Homo sapiens: one gene and its partner. The protein of the gene in region 2 interacts with the protein of the main gene of each other region in a pairwise test. Each region holds a gene or a part of one and is shown on either strand. Other genes may lie near its edges.

The links.
Region 1: the proteins of ATN1 (region 2) and LYST interact in a two-hybrid assay, tested with the Homo sapiens proteins (one study listed by BioGRID).

The regions. Positions count from the first base shown.
Region 1 is NC_000001.11:235,807,689-235,814,963, forward strand, and holds part of LYST (lysosomal-trafficking regulator), read right to left. Parts: intron 5,374-7,275; coding exon 5,283-5,373; intron 2,847-5,282; coding exon 767-2,846; exon of another isoform or gene 417-766; coding exon of another isoform or gene 391-416; intron 1-390. UniProt on the Homo sapiens protein: Adapter protein that regulates and/or fission of intracellular vesicles such as lysosomes. Might regulate trafficking of effectors involved in exocytosis.
Region 2 is NC_000012.12:6,930,788-6,938,062, reverse strand, and holds part of ATN1 (atrophin-1), read right to left. Parts: intron 4,224-7,275; 5' UTR 4,062-4,223; coding exon 4,035-4,061; intron 3,888-4,034; coding exon 3,750-3,887; intron 3,599-3,749; coding exon 3,485-3,598; intron 2,517-3,484; coding exon 502-2,516; intron 219-501; coding exon 1-218. UniProt on the Homo sapiens protein: Transcriptional corepressor. Recruits NR2E1 to repress transcription. Promotes vascular smooth cell (VSMC) migration and orientation. Corepressor of MTG8 transcriptional repression.

The DNA of each region.
Region 1 (7,275 bases), on a different chromosome or scaffold from region 2:
CGTTTATAAAATTATTTTTAAATGCACCAGATTTGGCAATCACAAAGTCTGGAAAACTCACTGATAGGATTAAAAGTAATTTTAATATTCTTATTTTTGTTTATCTATATTTTCTAATTTTTCTACATATATTGCAGAGGTTATAAATGTAAATATAATATTTTAAAATTAATAATCCCATTAGTGCCTCTGCCTCAATAATCATTTTATGTATTATTTTACATGTAATACATATTTTACATAGTTGTAAATAAGTGAACACTATTTTAATTGTTTATATTTTACCCATAAGATATTATAATCATTTTCTCATATTCCAATATGATCTTTGTAAACATTTTCAATGGCCAATAATATTCTATCAAGGAAATATAAAGTAATTAAACTTGCCCTGCTCTTGGATATCTGTGTTTCATCTACGTTTTTCTCAGTTGTATATCTAAAACTTTTCTTTTTGTTGAGAAATTAAAATCAATGGCTGTATCCTCTTCTCTATAAACAGCTCAGTAAAAAATGCATACATACATAAACAAATGGTTAAAACAAATCTGACATGGAAGGAGAACATTTTTTGTTGACAAATTGAAATTAAATCCTAGGAAAGAATAAAGAGTAAATACGATCACACTGCTGCCAAAGCCCTGGAGATATCAGTGTTAGAAGTTTAAATGCATACAATTTATCACTCACTTGAAAGCATCCAATGAAAAAGATCTAGACATGCTCAACAACCCCCGCCCCCGCCGCCACCCACACACATACAAACCTGGATTTAAGCAGGATAGGCAGAGTTTTTACATAAATCTGAAGCACGTCCTGAGGCAAGCACTGGTTATGATGGCTACATACATGACTTTGAGCTGAAGTAACGCTTAGGTGTTGACAATGATGTGCTAATTCAACTCCTCTTTGGAGCACAGGATTAAATATGTAATTATATAATTTCCACTGAACAACTATATTGCCTTTCTGGATTAAATTGCAAATGTGATTTGCAATCTGTATACTATGTAATCTGTCTTCTTCAAAAACAAAGTTCTGATAAGCCTTTAAAGCATCCCATTTCCACAACAAATCTTCAGATCCACTGCTGGGCAGGATCCCTTGAAATCTGTAAGAAGGACTGGATAAACTTGAGGAGAGTTCAGCATCACATAAGTTTCCCTGCAGTGTCTCTTCTAATTGGGCTAGTTGGTCAGAGTCAACAGTACAAATATTACAAGCTGCTTTTTTAATTTTTGGTGATATCTCTGCTCCTCCTAACTGATCCAAAATAAGTTTGTTAAGGATATTCAATATATGCTGCTGAAAATTTTTCAGTGCTGGCAATTTAAAAGCATGGAGCAAAGGAATGATTACAGATTTGGGATCCATACAACAGCATATTCCAATGTTATGAACACCCGATAGGATCTGGACACAAGTGCTGCTCAAGGAAGCCTGCTGTAGTAAGCGCAAGCACTGATGGGCACACACTGCAATGCAACAGCACCGCTCAGGATAATAAACATCTCCATCTGCAGTCTCTTCAAATGGGTTTTTGGAAACCTGGTTTTTAAAAGCCGAAACCAGAAGACCTGAGAGATCTCGGTGATGATGCATAAAATGAGAATATTCACATCGTCTGTGCCTTTTTCTTGTACACATCGAATGATGAAGTTGCTCTGATTTCACTTTTTTGACAGTGCTCATTATTTTCATCACACTATTTATTAGGGCTTTCAAATGCTCTGAGGCCTCGGGAGGAACTCCATCTCTTAAAACCAGCCATTCCATTTGAAGAACTGCTGTTTCAAATAAATTAAATCCATGATGCTGAATGAATTCTTGAACCAAATCCATGGCTTGACTGAAGTAGAAGGGATTTGAAGCTGCACTTTGAAGACAACAGATCAGAATCTGAAGAACTCCTTCCAAAAGCTCAGGTAAAAGAAGGGCTCTATGACGATACTTTGAAAACACAAAATCTTCCTGAACCTCCTGCAGTGTTTTCTTTTGTCTTGGTGCAAAAGGGTCAGGCTGCTTTTCTAGGCATATTCTAATTTTTAAAGCTGCTCTAAGCAATTCAGTTAAATTTTTCCTAAGATTTTCTGGCATCATCTCTGCAGTACTAACATCTACTGACAGAAGATGCAACACTGTTCGAAAGAGCATCCTTTGAATCAAAGCCACCGGTTCTTCGGTCCAACCTGCAGAAACTACTCGACTCTCCAAGTTGTCGCTCAGACTGCAGCAGTCCCCAAAGCCTGCTAGGAATTCAGTTAGTGTGGGCACTACACTGGCTGCTAAAGGAGAATTATGATTCAAGGTAACGTCAAACTTACAAACTTTTTCTAATAAAGATAACAAAACATGACATAAGTCAAATGGAGAATTGTTCATGTTACTGATAACAGACAAGGCAGCTGGCTCACTTAAAATGTCAGTGTTTGACCCCTGTCTTGGAATAATCTCTCTGGAATTTTCCAAAGCCATAGCATCTGGAGGAGTCTGTTCTTTGGTTGCTAAGCGGTCAAGTTTAGCTTTGGGGTGGTCTTGTTTAGGAAACGATGTTAAAAAATGATGCAGCAGATGGGGCCTTCTATGCTTATTCATTGCTATGCCTTTTTCATCTGAATTGGCTTCTGAATCTGAGGTGGAGAGCTGTGTCTTTCTTGCATCTCTTACAGAATAGCGATGGGTAATTTTACGCTGTCGTCTGCTTTTTCGAAAAACATTTACTTTTGCAGAAACCTGACTAGACAGGGCACTTCCTTCTAAATGTAATTTTTCCTGAGTGGATCTTTGTGAACTTGAGTTCTTTTCTTTGGTCAGGATTATATCTGCTGAGAGCGGTAGGTTAAAATCTAATGGAATGAAAAAAGAAGGCTTAGAATACCTCAATATGTTTTAAAACTCAATTTTAAGGTGACAGCCCTCTTATTTATCTTAAACCCACTAAAGGAGTTTATCCTCAATGTATTTTGCTGCAGGGCTGATTTCCTTCATTTATGTCATATCTCTGGGTTACCTCCTCTCACACTTATCCTTACTCTAAACACTAGCTGACATTAGTTCAAAGGATACAAATTGATTTTTAAAACAACAAAACAGAGGCACACCTATACTTACTCTAAACACTAGCTGACATTACTTCAAAGGATACAAACTGATTTTTAAAACAACAAAAGAGAGGCTGGGTGAGGTGGCTTATGCCTGTAATCCCAGCACTTTGGGAGACTGAGGCGGGTGGGATCACTTGAGGTCAAGAGTTTGAGACCAGCCTGGCCAACACGGTGAAACCCTGTCTCTAGTAAAAATACAAAAATTAGTCAGATGTGGTGGTGCACGCCTGTAATCCCAGCTACTTGGGAGCCTGAGGCAGGAGAATCTCTTGAACCTGGGAGGCAGAGGTTGCAGTGAGATGAGATCGTGCCACTGCACTCCAGCCCAGGTGACAGAGTGAGACTCTGTCTCAAAACAACAACAACAAACAAAAGAGAACAGAGTTAAGAAAGTAAATCTGATTTAAAACTATATATTATATTCTAACTTCAACATAAGAGATGCTGTAGATTATCTGGTATTTAGTGCTGTTGTTCACACCATTTACAAATCTCTTCCCATAGTACCACTAATTAAAATGTAAGGATGTATTATATTCTCAAAAATAGTATTCATAGACCTGATATAATTTAACTACTTTAAGATTTTTCTAAAATTATTTCAAAATCATACACTATATGCCAAATGTTCTCTAAAACTGAGGTTTAAATAATTCTTTATTCAAATTATTTCTCAAATGTTTCAGCACTGAACTAGGCACCAGGTATAGACACTATTATTTCATCCCCGGTGCCTAGATAGGGCCTGGCGTATGGTCAACACTCAGTAAATACTTCACAGGGGAAATGAATGAATTCTCCCTTTAACTAAAAAGATAATTAGATCAGTCTTTCTCTTTGCAGTATGTAGTAAGAGCTATATAAAAAAGTAGCTGTAATTTAGAGTGAATAAATTAAAATCTGTAAATAAAAAAATCTGTGCTTTACTAAGACAGGGAAAGCAAACCAGATGGGAAGAGGAGAAATTAAAAGGAGTCTGACAAATTCCACCCAAGCAAAAGATGCAGACAATGAAGACAACTTCCCCCAAAGAGCATTAATCAGATTTCTTAAGTGATTAACAATTTGTGAATTCTGCAAACTCAGAAAAAAATAAAAGCAGAGAGTTAGTGAATCAATAAATAAGCAGAAAAACAGTATTACAAAACCTTAGATACCTCCTTAAAAAAAGCTCCATGAAATTCACTAAAAATACAGGAATTAAAATACAATAATTTTTTTTTTAACCTGAGAGATCTTCAAACATCTCACAAACATGTCACAAGAAAGGGTCAAGAGGAAAACTATTAATCTCTCCAATGAAACATTTAAAGTTTCATGTACTTTATAGACATATGATTTCTTCAAAATCATAAATTAAAAATATCTATCGACCTTACATAGAATAATTCTACCCAAGCTTGAAACAAAATATTAAATATATCCTTTAGGCTGGGCACGGTGGCTCATGCCTGTAATCCCAGCACTTTGGGAGGCTGTGGTGGGCAGATTACTTGAGGTCAGGAGTTTGAGACCAGCCTGGCCAACATGGTGAAATCCCATCTGTATGTACTAAAATGCAAAAATTAGTCTGGCATGGTGGTGCACGACTGTAATCCCATCTACTCAGGAGGCTGAGGCACAAGAATTGCTTGAACTCGGGAGGCTGAGGTTGCAGTGAGCCGAGATCACTCCACTGCCCTCCAACCTGGGTGACAGAGTGAGACTCTGCCTAAAAAAAAAAAAAAAAAATTATACTTTAAAGGCAACACTAGAAAAACTAAGCTAAAACAAATACTGCAAAAGTCACTTATAGAATACTGGTAATAGAAAGCAGTCTTTAAAATAAGCAAAGAAACTTTAATTTCTTTATTCAGACTTTTCACTTCCAACTTTTCACTATCCATTTTTCTGATGTTATGCTGCACACCTAGACTCACTCCTTCTGATAAGTGTTTCTGCTTCTTTATACATTTTCTAATCATCAGTACATTCAAGTACTTCCCCCAAGAAGCACCATGGTTTTTGTATTATTGAAGGAAAAATGTGTTTGCCTAAATAATTTTTCATATTTAGTATGAATAAATCACAATAACATATAGTGTTCTGAATCTGAATCAGAATCAAACATTCAGGCAGAAGTAACTTTTCTATGAAATTTTGATAACACAAGTGATATGATAAAGGGAAAAAGCATACCTGTTGCCTTTTCTTCTTGGACAGGTATCTTCCATACCAGTGGAAGGAGAGACAGAAGAAGAGTCAGGAGTTCTTCTCTACATGTCAATGCCTATGTCAGTAACAAAAGAATCCTTCATGTTCTAAGGCGATAAGACACATCAGTTCCTAATGTCTTGTCTTAAACTGAACCAAAAAATCCTTTTTCTTGAAAGTCTGCATTTGAAAAGCTAAGAATCAAATTAACCTATCTTCAATCCAGTTAAAGCTGTGATACTTTTAAGTTTATAAGCCTTTCTAATGATAGAAGAATCTAAGAGTATTTGACAGTATTTAGCACACTCCTGCTGATATTTCCAAAAATAGCTGTTATTACCACCATGCACATTGCAAGAATTCCTTACCTATGAAGAAACAGATTTGCTAGGTGAAAATGAAAAGTTAAGCCCTATTAATTAGCAAAGCAATGCTACAAAGTTACTAGAAAAATGTGAAGCCTTCATGCAGTTAAATGAAAAACTCAGAGACGATTTTAAAAGAGAAATTGACATTATTAATAAATAATATATAAGGAGAGAAAGACTTATTAGTGAATGTAATCCAATAAATATTTATTGACTGCATACTATGTCCACAAAAATACTGTCTTACCCTTTCTGGAGGATATGGTCCAAGCCCTGGAGAAGGTCCCCTCATTTGGTCCATAAAATACATACACATAAACAGTTAAAGAACAGCAGAAGGCATGTAGTATGAGTAAGTATCCAGGGGTGGTAGAAGCATTCAGTTTAGGAGTTCAGAAAAAGGAGCAGTCATTATCAGAAGTATGGAAGGAGAATGGGAGCTAGAGAGCTAGACCTGGGACACCTGGGACATGGGTAGTAAAGGATTTAACGACAAATCAAGTTTGAGTTCTCGCCTTACACCAATCAGTGGGAGAGGGGGTCGCATGATGACACAATCAGATTTGCTGAACAGAATTAGTTGGAAGGGGAAGCAGTGTTAGAGGCAGGGTAACAATAATCCAGATGAGAGAGATGATGACTTTCTGAAGTACTCCAACAACAGAAGGGAAAAGGAGACATATTTGAGAAACTGTAAGGTAGAACTAAAATAACTTGCAGTTGATTATCTATGGCACATAAGGGAGAAAAGAAAAGATCTAAAAGGACCCACAGGTTACTGGTTTCAGCATCTAGGTAGCTGATAATGTATTCACCAAGACAGGAAATTTACAAGTGGTATTAGGTTGGGATAAAGATGATGGATTCACTTTTCAGACATATGGAGTCTGAGACGTCTATGCACTATCCTAATGAAGACAGCTTTTTAGTAGACAGTAAATATATAGATCTGGAACTTAAAAAAATATGAAGTAAATAACAAGATTTAGGAGTAATTGGGGTGGAAGGCAAGAAGATATGTGAATTTTCCCAGGGTGAGAATATAGAATGACAATAGAAGACCATCAAGAATGAAACTCCGGACTTTAAAGACTTAAAGATGGGCAATGCTAAAGAAAAGGCTGAAAAGGCTTCTATTGAAAAATAGCCCCAAGAAAGAGAAGTACAACCAGAGAAACCAAGGAAGAGACCAGTTCAGGAAAGAAAGGAGTCAGCAGGGCCAAAGCTGTTGCCCTTTCACTGTGTGACATGATGGCCGAAAAGCATTTAGTAACTGGAATGCCCCTTAACTAACGGCTTTAATGGAGTGATTTGACTGCAACTCCAATTACAATAGGCTGAGGAGTCAAAGGAAGTGAGAAAGTAAAGACAGGACATTCAGACTACTCCTTCTGGTGTCCTGGTTGTGAAAAGGCTCAGAATTCTTCAAAAAAGGGGTTTAGTAAAATCTAAACCCCTTTTTAGGTATAGAAAACCCTTCACGGCAATGATTCCTGTTGAGCTGTCCAGTGTCAGCTCCCTCTGCCACACATGAGCCCTCCGCATACATCTAGCTGGTAAAGGTTTCCCCTGAAAACTACTGGTCTCTGTGCTCCCAATAGGTCTTCCTC
Region 2 (7,275 bases):
TGCGTTCAAGCTCGCGCTCCTTCTCGCGCTCGCGCTCTTTCTCGCGTTCCCGCTCGCGCTCGCGCTCCTTTTCTTCGCGCGCGCGCTGCTCGGCCTCGCGCCGCACCTTCTCCACCAGGTCGGCCCGCTTCTTGGCCAGCTTGGAGCCCTCCAGTGGCACGAAGTACAGGTCGCTGCGCGCGCACGAGTTGAAGCCGCGATCCAGGTGTTTGTTGAACCTGCCGGGCGTGGAAGCAGCGGGCGCTCAGGCGGTGCGAGCTGCCCGATGGAGCCCGCAGCGCCGCGGCCCCGGCGAGTGCTTGTAGCCCCCGCCTCAAAACCACCCCTGCAGGCTGTGAGCTGCTGCGGGCCTCACTGGCCACTAGGCCTGGACGGAGGAGAGGGGCGTGCTTTTCTAAAACACTACACCAGCGCAAGGCCCCTCCCTGCTACTCCCTCTCTCGTCGCCGCCTTGTCGTCGTCCCCTTTCCAGGCCCACCTCCGCCCCACCTGGCCGCTCACCTGGCAGACTGACTGGCATGGCTGGGTACATCTACCACCTTGGGAGGGGGCGAGGGGCTGCGGGCTGGGGGCACCGGGCTCTCGGGGGTCTCATACTCCTCAGCCGGCTCCTGTTTGATCTGCGTGGCGCTCAGGGGCGGCCCTGAGGCAGGGGCCGCAGGTGGTGGTGGCAGCGATGGCAGGCCTGAGGGCCCCGCAGGTGGCAGGGGCCCAGGTCCCACGGTGGGCGAGCCCGGCTTGAAGGTCCCTGGGCCTGCAGGTGGCGAGGTTCCTCGATAGCCCGGTGGGGTCCCCGTTCGGAAGGAGGGAGGCGACCCGGGTTTGTATCCGGGTGGGGTGGCTGTCTTGTAGGCCCCCGGGGACGGGGCTCTCTTTCCGTACGGTGGGGGCCCAGGTGGGGAGGCCGTTTTGTAGCCTGCTGGCGAGGAAGCCACGGTGGCAATGACCGTGGAAAGGGTAGCCGAAGAGGTGGTGACCGTAGGCACCGGTGGGAAAGGGTAGGGCGCCCCTTGAGGGCCCTGGGAAGGGGAGGGGTGTGAACATGGGTAGGACCCTTGAGAAGTGGAAGAGGAAGAGTTGGAAGAGGAAGAGACTGGAGGGCCATTGGGGCCTGCTTGGCTGTAGGACACCTGGCTGTGAGGTGGGGGCAGGTGTGCTGGCCCTGGTGGGTAGGGCCTCAGAGACCCCAGGGAGGGAGACATGGCGTAAGGGTGTGCGTGGTGGGAGCTACCGCCCTCCAGTGGGTGGGGAAATGCTCCAGGAGGAGGGGGCCCAGAGTTTCCGTGATGCTGCTGCTGCTGCTGCTGCTGCTGCTGCTGCTGCTGCTGCTGCTGTTGCTGTTGCTGGTGGTGATGGTGATGTGTTGAGACTGGTGGGTGGGCGGTGGACTGGGCCCCAGTAGAGGGAGGGAAGGGGCCTGGATGGGCATTGCTGTTGGCTAAGAGGCGGCCATAGGGAGGAGGTGGTGGGGGACCCTGGCTCCACACAGCCTGGGATGGGAGAGAAGGCTGAGTATACTTGGGGGGCTGATTGGAGACAGAGAGGCTTGTTGGGGGAGGGAAAGAGTGGGGGTAGCTGGGCAATGCCTGGGAAGCTGGGAAGGGGGAGGCAGAGGAAGAGGAGGAAGAACTGGAAGAGGAGGCTGCTGCAGAGCTACTACTAGAGGATGAATAAGGAAACCTCATGGGGGGCGCTGGAGCAGAAGAGGAAGCAGGAGGCAGAGAGTGGGGTGAAGGAGCCAGAGTTGGGCCCTTCTCTGGGCCAGGAGGAAGTCCACCCATACCCTGTCCCATGGCGTGGGGAGAGGGCAGATGACCAGGTAGTGGTTGGGCCCCCAGGCCAGGGGGAGAGGCTGATGCATTGTTGAGGGGTCTCAGGGCAGGTGGGGGAGGCAGGTTCGGTGTCACATGGGGGAAGTTGGCTGGTGGTGGAGCAGAAGGTAGGTTCCCACCACCCACTGGAGTGGTAGGCGGCTTTGTTGGGGGAGCACCACTAGCCCCAGAGCTTGATACTGAAATGGGAGTAGTGGGTGGGGGGTGCTGCTTACCCCCATTAGGGCCCCCCACTGATGAGGCAGCCCCTCCCCCCTTGGGACCCATTGGGGGTCCAGACAAAACTCCACCAGTGCCCCCAGGATAGAGCTGTGGGTGAGGGGGAGGGGCCCCAGGAGGAGCCTGGAACATTCGAGATGTGGGGGGCTCCATGGGAGCATGATATCCAGTGGGTGTCACAGAAGGATGGGGTTCAAAGCTAGCCTCTGGCTGTCGAGGGGTGCTGTCTGGCGGTTGAGGGGAAGGAGGAAAGAGTGGAGGTGGGTGGTAGGGGCGGGCTGGGCCCTGGGACAGGCCAGAAGATGAGTCAGAGTCATTCTCCACACTTCCAGGGCTGTAGATACTGGGGGACGTGCTTCGGTTGTCCTGGTCGATATCCCTAGGGTCGCTGCTGCCATCATCATTAAGGCTCCGCCCGTCCAAGCTATCCAGATCGGAGGGAGACTGTGGCCGAGGGAGTTCCTGCTGTAGAAAAGGGAAGACTCATTTTTTCTCTTTTCCTTTCCTGCTTCCCTGAGATTTGGGGCTCTCTTGCATAAAATCATTTCCCCTCACAGCACACTGTTGTACTGTGATGTGGTGAGTACTCTTGCTCAAGCCCACCTCTTACCATCTGGGGATTTCTCACTTTCCTCACATTCTTGGCTGCTCCCTAGCAGCCAGTCTTGTTTCCCGCCTGTAAAACCCTATTCCTTCCTCAAGGATCCATCTCAAGCACCTTGTCTCTACCCACAGCTGACTCCAACTCCCTGTCTTCCACCATCTCATAACCACCACTTTAACCATCCTCCATCCCCCAAGCCCTTGGTTTTTATACCACTTCTGGCCGGGCACAGAGGCTTACACCTGTAATCCCAGCACTTTGGGAAGCTGAAGCGGGCGGATCACTTGATGCCAGGAGTTCCAAACCAGCCTGGCCAACATGGTGAAACACTGTCTCTACCAAAAATACAAAAATTAGCCGGGCATGGTGGCTCATGCCTATAATCCCAGCCACTCGGGAGGCTGAGGCACAATTGTTTGAACCCAGGAGGCGGAGGTTGCAATGAGCTGAGATTGTGCCACTGTACTCCAGCCTGGGTGACAGAGCGAAACTGTCTCAAAAACAAACAAACAAAAAAAAACAATAAAAAAGAAAGACCACTTCTGCATTTTCCTTAAGATTTATTTGTTCCTCCGACTAAGACTTCTCACCCAGAGACTAGAATCCCCCAACTCTTCTGGTCCCCTTTGGCCCTGCCTGGTCATCTGGTGGTCTGTCAAAGCTCTAAGAATCTCTCTGGCATATTATAGACAGAACTGCTCTCATAAGCACTATGATCTGGCCTTTCTCTTATGTCCCAGGAGAGATCCAGCTAAGAATAGTGAGCATAAGCAAGTCTGAGAAAAGAATGGTCACAAGATGGGTCAGGATGGCGACAAGGGTTTCCCACCTCAGTTTTGGTCTTTTTTGGTGCATTGGTCTCCTCACTTTCACTCTCTGAGATCTCCTCACTCCGACCCTGCTTGTTGACCTTTGGGGTGGAGGCTTCCTCTACTCGGGCCTTCTGTTAGAGAGAAAGAGAAAATTCCTGTCTTTTCCCTACCTCCCGAGCTCCACCGTTACCCTCTGCCAAACAGGAAGTTCCCCCACAACACACACACACCCTCAGCCCCAGTGCCTTGGGCATCCTGTGGGAGGACCTGAGGACAGAATACCTTGGCTGTCTGCCTGGACTTCTCAGCTTTGCCATCACTGCTGGACGTGCTGACCCCTCCAGGGGAGGCCCGGCCCCTCGATCTCAGTTCTTCCCGGGGCCCAGGGGCCTCTTTCTTCCGTCCACTCCTCATTGACATCTACAGGAGGAGGAAGGAGGTAGGTAACACTGTTCTTTACATTGCACCTAACTTTATGGTGCACATTATTTGTTCTTCTTCTCTAGACCCTTCCTCCTAGCTTGCCTGCCCCGCCCCTCATCTTTCATGTCTCTCATTTTAACTCACCGAGTCTTTATTCTGTCGTGTCTTCATTCTTCAGGCTGTGGAGACCCCATTCTCCTCTGCCTGGGCAGCTGAATACAGAAACTTCTCTGCTCCACCCCAAGTTCCCCACAGCTGTGGTCTGGGAAGCAGGATCTCCAAGTTTCCAGTGTGGGCACCTGGAACTTTTGCAGGATCTGTTTTCAATGAAACCTGTTAGAAGGAAACCATCAGAGTCTCCAACTTGGAGAACAGAGTCACAAAGGAATACTATTCTGCTTGTCAGAGAACTGAGCAAGCGGCCCAACCCTAAGCCTTTGGGCCAAGAGGTACAGATACCACAAGACATTGCTGGCATGCCCCATGGGCTACCTTAGCTATCTAAAAGGGAGGCAGATTCTGCTCGAAGTATAATCTCTTTCATCTCTGTAGAGGGCAGAAAATTCGGATGTACCTACAAGCCCCAATCCAGGAGATCACACAGTTTACCCTTCATGATCCCTAAAGGATATTTGTGAACACACACATTCCACGGAGCCTTACAAAGGAACATAAAGAAATGGAGCGGGGCATGGTGGCTCATGTCTATAATTCCAGCACTTTGGGAGGCCTAGGTGGATGGACCACAAGGTCAGGAGTTCAAGACCAGCCTAGCCAACATGGTGAAACCCAGCCAGGCGTGGTGGCACGTGCCTGTAATCCCAGCTACTCAGGAGGCTGAGGCAAGCAAATCACTTGAACCTGGGAGGCAGAGGTTGCAGTGAGCCGAGATCATGCCACTGCACTCCAGCCTGGGTGACAGAGTAAGACTCTGTCTCAAAAAAAAAAAAAGAAAAAAGAAATGACATTGAAGTATGAATTTATTGAATACCTTCTTTATATCAAGCCCTTCACATACATGATTTCATTTAATATTTACAACCAACCCTGAATGGTAAGCATTATTACCCTCATTATATAGGTGAGGGAACTGAGGCTCAAAGATTGTGATTGTGACTAGCCCAACCTCACACAGTGAGGAACCAGTGACAGAGCCAGAATCAAACCCATGTCGGTGACTTCAAAGCCCATGCTCTTTCTTCTATACTTTGCTGTATTCTCCTCAGAAGTTGCTGGGGAGAATTCTCAGAAGGCCTAGATCAGTCACAGAGATATGAAAAGAATCTTTTCTCACATCAGAGTAGGTAGAAGAAGAATGTCCCATTCTATAATACAAAGGAACACAGCCCTACCAATCCCAAGACTAAACCTAGGTAGCCCCAAATTGTAGAACTTCATTTTTGAGAGCCCCATAAAGGACCCATTCTCTAGTACTTGAGCTCCCTAAGGCTAGAGGAAAAGTCAGGGTTTTCACATGAATGATTAAAGACTCAAAATATCCGTGAGCAAACAACACAGATGTACCAGTTTTTAAGCCTATCCTCCTACTTGGTGTAGACTGGGTTACACAGTTTCTCACAGCCAATCCATCCGTATCTGTCTATCAGCAGGTATCTATCTTTATCCAAATCCCTATAGCCAGCTGTATTCATTTGCACTTGTTTGTATTTCTTGCTAAGTGTCAAGTCCCTCCAAATTACTGATTGTAAGATCTTTTGAGAGCAAAAATGGTATTTTCTTACTGTTTTCTTCCTTTCCACTGATGTGTGTGCGCTCTTCTTGTGATTGACCTTTAAACCCACTAACATCAGTAGGTCTTTCTTCCTGAATTAAGTGCTGCTAGCTCCAGTGGGAACAGACTAAGCTTACCCATGTATTCTATTCTGAGTTGGAGGCCTGCTAGGTAAACGGCATGTCCATATTCTGTAGTGTATTTTTTCCCAAGAAACACAGTAATTCTCACTCACCTCCACGGAACCATACTGATGCAGGCAGTAAGGGGTGAGTCTAACCTTTCCAGGAAACTTCACAATTTACTTAGAATCACAAAATTGCTGGGACAGAGCCTATCTTCTGAACTTTCAACTGATGCTCTGCCCAGTAGACTTGTCTTTTTTTTTTTTTTTTTTTTTTTTTTTGAGACAGAGTTTCACTCTTGTTGCCCAGGCTGGAGTGCAGTGGCGTGATCTCACTCACTGCAACCTCTGCCTCCCAGGTTCAAGCGATTCTCCTGCCTCAGCCTCCTGAATAGCTGGGATTACAGGCATGCACCACCACACCCGGCTAATTTTTTGTATTTTTAGTAGAGACAGGGTTTCACCATGTTAGTCAGGGTGGTCTCGAACTACTGACCTCAGGTGATCTGCCTGCCTCGGCCTTCCCAAGTGCTGGGATTACAGGCGTGAGCCACTGTGCCCGGCCAACTAGTTTTCTTTTTTTTTCCTTTTTTTTTTTTTTGAGATGGATCTTTGCTCTTGTTCCCCAGGCTGGAGGTGCTATGGCATGATCTCAGCTCACTGCCACCTCCGCCTCCCAGGTTCAAGCGATTCTCCTGCCTCAGCCTCCCAAGTAGCTGGGATTACAAGCGCACACCACCACACCTGGCTAATTTTTGTATTTTTAGTAGAGACGGAGTTTCACCATGTTGACCAGGCTGGTCTCGAACTCCTGACCTCAGATGATCCACCTGCCTCAGCCTCCTAAAGTGTTGGGATTACAGGCGTGAGCCACCATGCCCGGCCTTTTTTTTTTTTTTTTTTTTTTCAACTACAGCTATTTTCCCACATTTTTTAGTTGTTATGTAGACTGGTTTTAAAATACTATCAACCAAAAAAAAAAAAAAATCCGAAGAACAACACCCACCATAGCAAAAGAGGAAAACAATCTTAAACAAAAAGCACAACAAAGATGACTATTTGTGATTGGTGTATTTTTGCCAGCCCTCCTAGAGAAGGGTGTCCATCTCCCTTCCCCATCACAGAACCTGTTCACCAAGTCAGTTAGGTTAGGGGATCCAAAAGGTCAGAGAAACACAGGAATGTACCTGAGGAACACAGCAATCATAGTATGCCCTTCTTTTTTAATCACCTGAAATCTGATAAAAACTAGCAATGAGAAGCTTTGAAGGAGAAAAGCAGTCATAAAAGAACAAGTAATCCTGGGGATAAGGAGTGGCAGACGAGGAAAGGAGTTAGGGGTGGATTGTGTGTCTTTCTAGACCTGGGTCATGTTTTAGCACCAGCCTACACTCCTAGCAGGCAATCACTGTAACTAATATTACAGAGCACCTACTCTGTATCTGGCCACATACTAAGCACATTCACCTTCATTACCTTGCTTTATTTTATTTATTTATTTATTTATTTATTTATTGAGACGGAGTCTC